Homo sapiens: one gene and its partner. The protein of the gene in region 1 purifies or fractionates together with the protein of each later gene. This does not show direct contact. Each region holds a gene or a part of one and is shown in the gene's direction. Other genes may lie near its edges.

Region 1 (3,818 bases):
GAAGCAGGATCAGGCGGGAGGAGCCATCTGACCTCGATGAAGAAGGCGGGACAACAGAATCTCTGCCAATCTGGAAGAGCTCAGGAGCAAAACTTGCCAGCTAGAGGAGTGCCTCACAGGGAGAAACGGCCAGGCTCTTGCTCTGCCCCTGCTCAGCTGTGGACGGAGAGCCACCAGAGAAGAGGCAGCCCTGGCCTGGAATGCCAAGGTACAGCCTGAAAGAGCTGCAGCTAGAAGCTGTCAGGCAACAAAGCTCCAACCCTGACTCTGGGCTTGATTCTTTCTTAAAGGTGGGGGAATCTGCATAGTGCATCTTCTGGACACGTGTGTGACATGATTTGTGAAATGGCTCTTTTTTGGATGCTTCATGGTGTATATACATTGATACCTTTTTTTGAACGAATATTATTCTGTGCCAGCAACATTTTTCAGAATTTCTATGAATTATTTGAATGCTAGAGAAAATTTGAATCTATCTGTATATTTTTCAGACCAGTTATCTTTCAGGGAAACAATATTTTAGTCTATAATAAATATTAATATTAGTCTTATGATGCTTTAAATTTATGGTTAGGCATTTTTCTCTTTTCCTAAAAATATTTTAAATCTAATCTTTCTGAACCTCAGTTTCTTCATCTCTAAAATAATTATGATAAAAGCATTACATTAGCAGATTGTTACAGGATTAAATAAGAGAACATATGTAAAGTGAAAAGTATGCTGCTGGGAACATTCAATACATGTTCATTCAAAAGAAACAGGAAAGAAAGAAAAAGAGCTCATGTTCAGAACTAGTATGGACTAGGCCTTCCTAGGTGTCTTCATTCATTTTGTGCTGCCATAAAAAGAAAGACCTGAAACAGGGTTATTTGTTTCTCGTAGTTCTGACTGAGAAATCCAAGATCAAGGCCCCTACAAGTTTGGCATCTGATGAGGGCTGCACTCTGCTTCCAGGATGGCACCTTGATGCTGCGTCTTCACATGGCAGAGGGCAGAAGGGCAAAAGGGATGAACTCTCTTTGTCAAGCCTTGTTATCAGGGCTTCTAATCCCATTCAGAAGGGCTCCACCATTGTGACTTAATTACCTATTCAGGCCGCACCTCTTAATGCTGTGACATTGGTGAACATGTTTCAGCATGAATTTTAGAGCGGACGCAAACATTCAAACCACAACACTAGGTGAGAACATTAGACTCTTGGCACACCCTCCATGAAACAAGCCTTAGCTTTGGAAAAATATGTTGTAGAAAATCCAAGCTTCTTGCTTTCCTGCCATCATCTATTTACTGATTTGTATGATCCTCCCCGCCCCACCCCCAGATATCTCTTGGGAAAGATAATGGTGTTTTTGACATTTTATAAATGTGCTTCATGAAGCAATACAATCAATTCTTCATGTAATATAGGTATATGCAAATTTTGACATAAAATAAAAGAAACTCTTTTTTGGGTGTATTTCAGCACTGATGTCAGTGCGTTAGTAGAAGAAATCCAGAAGGCAGAACCTCTACTCACAGCTTCACGAACAGAGCAAGTCAAACTTTTGATACAGAGGTTGCAAGAGAAACTCGGCCAGAACAGCAATCACACGTTCTATCTTTTTAAGGTAATGGATTTAAAAACAATCAGATAGAAGAATTTCAGTGAAATGATTGATATTTTATTAATTTTTCTTTCCCTAAAAATATTTTTTCATGAAAAAGGCATGTCAGTGATTGATTGTAGTGCCTCACATATGTTTGCTAAGATTGTCCCAATAATTATTTGTTAAATGAATGAGTGAAATCCAAAACACTTATTCCTTGAGAGGTTAAATAAAGATTTCAGCTCTTCATATAATGATAAATTTAAAGGGTTATTATTATTAAGATAGTTTTAAGTTATGGAATAACTAAAGCTTTTTTTCTAGTTAAAGTAACGTTAAGAAGTTGTGTTTTATGACAAATCAACATTTCGTATTTTCTGCTTTCATGTGAACTAAACCATATTTCAGTAAATTATTTATTTGTATGACATATAATTTTAATGTGATGTAAATATGCTTTTTAAATAGTTTTTTTGATGATTAAATATAGCAAATATAGTCGTTTAGTACTTCAAGGAAAGCTTTTAATTTTCCTTTGTCATTACCTTAGAATTACTTCATATTACACTGCTTTTATCTTTTATGATTTAAATATAATTATGATAGTAACATATAATTATTAGTTATAGACTCACCTGATACAAAATATCCAGGCATTCGTTTCTGGAAGAGGATGTTATAGTCTTGTAACATTTCTTTGTCCAGTAGGTGGCACTGTTTAATTTCAAATATGAGCTGTATAACTAGCGTGTCTCAATTTATTCTCCAAAGGGAACATTTTTGATGGTGAAAGTAGATGCTATTCATAGTTACATTTTGGTAACAGACATAACTTGGACTGTCCCAGCCCAGCCAATCACTCTTAATAGATTGTCCAATTTATGTATATGCATTCAATAAATATTCATTAAACATTCACTGTATGTTAGATGTTGTAGGGATTGAAAGATAAGGAAGACATATTCTGACACTAAAGGAGCTTCAGGATTCATAAAGTCATAATACATTGTCAAATCTTTATTGAAACATATTTAGTGTATTTCCTACATACCCAGTTTATACATGTATACAAAACCACATGCCATATGTAAAAGAAAATGTTACAAATTAGTGCTATCAATAAGATGCCACATAGCACTGTCTAAAGGTAAATCAGATATTGCCTGTTTCTGATGTATAATTAAGAAAAAATTGAATGTCTTCATTGGTTTGAAGTTATAACTAACAAATTTAATTTGGTTTGAGTCTAAAAAATGGTGTTTTCTTTCACTGAAGGTTCTCAAAGCACATATATTGCCACTGACTAATGTTGCACTTAACAAATCGGGCTCATGGTAAGATTCTCTTTTTATGTCTAATTTTTAGCAGTGAAACAAATTTCTGTGTTTATTTATCAAAGATTCCAGTTAGATAAGTACATAATATATTCATTTTTCTGATTTCAGTACTCCCTTGGATACTGAGGAGAAATATAAACCCTTTCTCCCACTCTTCTAATCTGAGTTTTCTGTCGTATTTGTGCTGCAGTGAATGGGAGGCATATTGGGTTCTCAGCAAATGTAGCTACTGAAGAACTCAACTCAGGAATGAGTCGGGCAGGGTGGCCTCATATCTAACTTGGTTGGTTGTGATCAGTCTATTCAGAGCAGGCACTTTCCATCTAGGTCAGTGATTTGGGGTATGGCAAACAGCAGCTTCAAGTCTCTGTTGAGAGCATGGCTGTGATCAGCTTGGGAGCTGACGTGCTAGGTAGGAGAGATGAGGGAGAAGTCTCGTCTTGACCTACAGACATAAAATAAACACAAACTAGACATAAAATAAGCAGTTTGCTAAGGCTTCCATAATAAGGTAGCACAAACTGAGTGGCTTACACAACCAAAATGTATTGTGTCACAGTTGGGGAGGTTAGAGGTCAGAGGTCAAGGTGTCATCAGGGTCAGTTCCTTCTGAGGCCTTGGGAAAGAAGCTGTTCCACAGCTCCTGTAGCTTCTGGTGGTTTGCTGGCAATCTTTGGTGTGGAGAAGCATCACCCTGAGCTCTGCCCTCATCTTCACATGGTTTTCCCTGTGCATGTCTGTGCCTATATGGCCTGTTCTTATAAGGATGTATTGAACTAGGGCCCACCCTACTGCGGCATGATCTCATCCTAACTTAATAATTTTTTTTTTTTGAGATGGAGTTTCACTCTTGTTGCTCAGGCTGGAGTGCAATGGCACGATCTTGGCTCACTGC
Region 2 (3,818 bases), on another chromosome or scaffold:
ATTCTCTGGAATAGATGCCTAGGAGTGAAATTGCTGGGTCATATGGTAACTCTGTGTTTAACTTTTTGGGAAAATGTCAAACTGTTTCTAAAGTGGCTGCACCATTTTATATCTGTGAGCAGCGTACTATTTACTTAATTTTTTTTTCTTTTTTTTTTTTTTTTTGAGACAGAGTCTCACTCTTTCGCCCAGGTTGGAGTGCAATGGCATGATCTTAGCTCACTGCAACCTCCGCCTCCCAGGTTCAAGCAGTTCTCCTGCCTCAGCCTCCTGAGTAGCTGGGATTACAAGTGTCCGCCAGTACACTTGGCTAATTTTTGTATTTTTAGTAGAGATGGGGTTTACCATGTTGGCCAGGCTGGTCTTGAACTCCCGACCTCAGGTGATCCGCCAGCCTCGGCTTCCCAAAGTGCTGGGATTACAGGCAGGAGCCACTGTGTCCAGCCTATTTACTTAGTTATTTAAAAGTAAAACATTTTTTAAAAAGGTAAGCAGTTTTCCAACACTGTCACTCCACAAGTGTTTTAAGTGACAGATCATTGCAGTGTGTCTCCCGATACCCAGGCCAGTCTGCTGGGGCACCATGCTGAGAACTGCTGTGAACCTGGGGCTTCAACCCCACTAGAAGGGGACCTTCTTTTTCTTCGGAGTCTGAAATGAAGGGTGCCAGGCAGCTCTTGGGGAAGAGTTTCTGCTTTGTCACCTTACTCCTGTCCCCTAATGCTGTCCCAGCCTTCAGGAATGGAGCTTTTGATCTGAGTCTGCAACCTGATTCCTGAAAGCTATTGATCAAGCACCCTGCCAGCGTCTCCGTCTCTGGTGCCTCTCCCTCACAGGCTCTCTATCTCCCACGTCAAGATGCAAAAGCCTAAAACCTCTGCCCAGTGTCTTGGTCAAAAAATCGAGCTGGAGCTAGGCACTCCCCCTGTCATAGCCCATAGCGGACACGGGGCTTAACAGGCCAAGGGCACTCCTGCCTGACAAACCCAGGATCCTGTCTTCTCAAAGCTTGTCTTAGAATGCAGCTGGTCGTCTGGAAATTGAGAGACAGTACAGAATAAACCCGTCTTTCCCCCACCTCCGCCTGCAGAGAAAAGAAATGCTGGGAACGCAGTACGGAGCGCCATGAAGTCCGAGGAACAGAAGATCAAAGACGCCAGGAAAGGTCCCCTGGTACCTTTTCCAAACCAAAAATCTGAAGCAGCAGAACCTCCAAAAACTCCACCCTCATCTTGTGATTCCACCAATGCAGCCATCGCCAAGCAAGCCCTGAAAAAGCCCATCAAGGGCAAACAGGCCCCCCGAAAAAAGTAAGTGCCCCATTCAGTCCTCTTCCTAACGTGGAGCAGTTTGGTTCCTCTGATGCCAGGGAAGCCTGCTCAGGTGCCCATGGGGGTTCAGTGGCCACCTCTCAGCCTCTCTCATGTCAAAGACTCAGATGCCCCGAGTCATCAGCAGGGATGCCACTGTTTGTCAGTTTCTGGATCTGGCATGGGTCCAGAGTTCAAGAGCCTCTCCTTCCTCCCCTCCTTACCCACCCCAGCATAAGCAGCCTTTGTTTTTTAAATTTATTTTTTTTGTTTGTCTTTTTTGGTGATTGGTGTTTTGTGTTTTTTTTTTTTTTTTTTTGAGACAGAGTCTCTTGTTGCCCAGGCTGGAGTGCAATAGTGCGATCTCGGCTCACTGCAAACACCACCTCCTGGGTTCAAGCGATTCCCCTGCCTCAGCCTCCTGAGTAACTGGGATTACAGGTGCATGCCACCATGTCCCGCTTATTTTTGTATTTTTATTAGAGACAGGGTTTCACCATGTTGGTCAGGCTGGTCTCAAACTCCTGACCTCGTGATCTGCCTGCCTCAGCCTCCCAAAGTCCTGGGATTACAGGCGTGAACCACCATGCCCGACTGTTGTGTTTTTTGAGACAGGGTCTTATTCTGTCATCCAGGCTGGAGTGCAGTAGCTCACTGCAGCCTCAACCTCTCAGGACCAAGTGATCCTCCTACTTCAGCCTCCCGAGTAGTTGGGACCATAGGTGTGCACCACCATGCCTGGCTAATTTCTTTCCTTTTTTTAGAGACGGGGTTTTGCTGTGTTGCCTGAGTTGGTCTTGAACTCCTGGGCTCAAGTGATCCTCCCGCCTCAGCCTCCCAGAGTGTTGGCATTACAGGCATGAGGCACTGCGCCCAGCCAGCAGCCCGTCTTTGAAACTCCTCTGAGGCCCTCATGGGCAGGTGACTGAGTGACCTGCAGGCTCCAGTGGACAAAGGTGTTTAAGTGACATCATCTCCAAGGAGCTGTGTGCCTCCTCGGTGTGTGCCTTCTAAGGAGCTGTGTGCCTCCAGGTTTTCAGTCCTGATATTTATTTTCTCCTCTTCCCCTCTTACCCAGAGCTCAAGGAAAAACGCAACAGAATCGCAAACTTACGGATTTCTACCCTGTCCGAAGGAGCTCCAGGAAGAGCAAAGCCGAGCTGCAGGTAGTCACGTGCTTTAAATTCCAGTTTGTGGAGGGGCAGGGTGGCCCACCAAGCAGTGCTTGGCGTGTGCGTATGTGTGTGTCCTCAGCCTTGTTTTCGTCATCTTGGAGCAAGTCTCTTGGCCCCTCTGGACTTGGTTTTCTCCTGGATCTATCGGGGATCCTCACAAAGCTTGTCCTGCCTTTCTGCTGGGGTCACTGCAGGGCTTGGTTAAGACACTTGTGTGAAGGAACCTTGTGACTTGTAGCATGTGGCAGGGAAAGCCAGGTGTGACTCTGAAGGTGGATTTTCCAGGACTTGTTGGCAGAGCCATTGGGAGCCTGGGACTGTGGGAAAGGCTGCCTGTTCTTTCAGAGGCTTTTCTTGTCTGTTTTCTGGAAGTTTCCATGTTGTGGCCCAGGGTGTTAAACAGCAGTGGCTTGGGGCCACTTGCTGGTTGCGTAGCCTTGGGCCAGTCACTTACCCTGTCCATGCCTTGGCTCTCCAGTCTGTAAAATGGTACAATAATGTAGTACCTGCTAGAGCTGTGGTGAGCATTCAATAAATGTGGTCATGCAAGAGGAACCCTTAGAACCATGCTTGGCACTCAGTAAGTGCCAGCTAACTGTTACTATCGCCACCTCTGCTTCCTCAGTGTTGTCACTCCCGTCTGCTCTTTCCCACGCTGCTGCCATACTAGGAGCCTGCAGACCAGTGAGCAGCACCGGCTGGAAGGCCAGCTGGCCTATGCGGGCCTCCGCTGCCATGTTTGCAGAGGGTTGAGCTATGCGGCAGGCAGTCAATATTTGCTGCAGTGAGGTGTGGTTATTGCCTTTCTGTGAAGGAAACGCAGGGCATGGCAGGTCCCTCTGCTCTTCCCCCTCAGGGACACCTGGGGCTGCCCCTCTGCTCTCCCTCACCCCCACAGTGACCACCGGGTTGGGAGAGGTGCTCAGGATTGCATCCTACACAGAGAGGTGGGGACCCCGGCTTTGGCAGTTTCAGCATTTCAGCCCTCATGCGGACTCCTTCAGCGTTCTTGATGTTAAATGCGCAGATACACAGTGGTCTAGTATTCTTTCTCTTTTTCTTTTAATTGATGAAGCTTCATTTAAAAAAAATTTTTAAAAAGGTCCATTTTCTTCCCCACAGAGAGCAGCTTTGGTTTTATTGCCTGAAAAAGGCAATGTCTTTCAGCCAAGAATGAGCTGTTTAAAACATTTGTCAGCAGTGGGAGGCTGTGCTAGGTCACTTTTTTTTTTTTTTTTTTTTGAGATGGAGTTTTGCTCTTGTTGCCCAGGCTGGAGTGCAATGGCGTGATCTCGACTCACCGCAACCTCCATCTCTTGGGTTCAAGTGATTC

Evidence for each region.
Region 2: the proteins of DAW1 (region 1) and KMT5A purify together in Homo sapiens (affinity purification with mass spectrometry; one large-scale study listed by BioGRID and IntAct). This does not show direct contact.

The regions. Positions count from the first base shown.
Region 1 is NC_000002.12:227,888,394-227,892,211, forward strand, and holds part of DAW1 (dynein assembly factor with WD repeat domains 1), read left to right. Parts: intron 1-1,462; coding exon 1,463-1,607; intron 1,608-2,861; coding exon 2,862-2,920; intron 2,921-3,818. UniProt on the Homo sapiens protein: Required for axonemal dynein assembly and ciliary motility in ciliated organs, including Kupffer's vesicle, during embryogenesis. Facilitates the onset of robust cilia motility during development.
Region 2 is NC_000012.12:123,393,957-123,397,774, forward strand, and holds part of KMT5A (N-lysine methyltransferase KMT5A), read left to right. Parts: intron 1-1,090; coding exon 1,091-1,310; intron 1,311-2,388; coding exon 2,389-2,476; intron 2,477-3,818. UniProt on the Homo sapiens protein: Protein-lysine N-methyltransferase that monomethylates both histones and non-histone proteins. Specifically monomethylates 'Lys-20' of histone H4 (H4K20me1).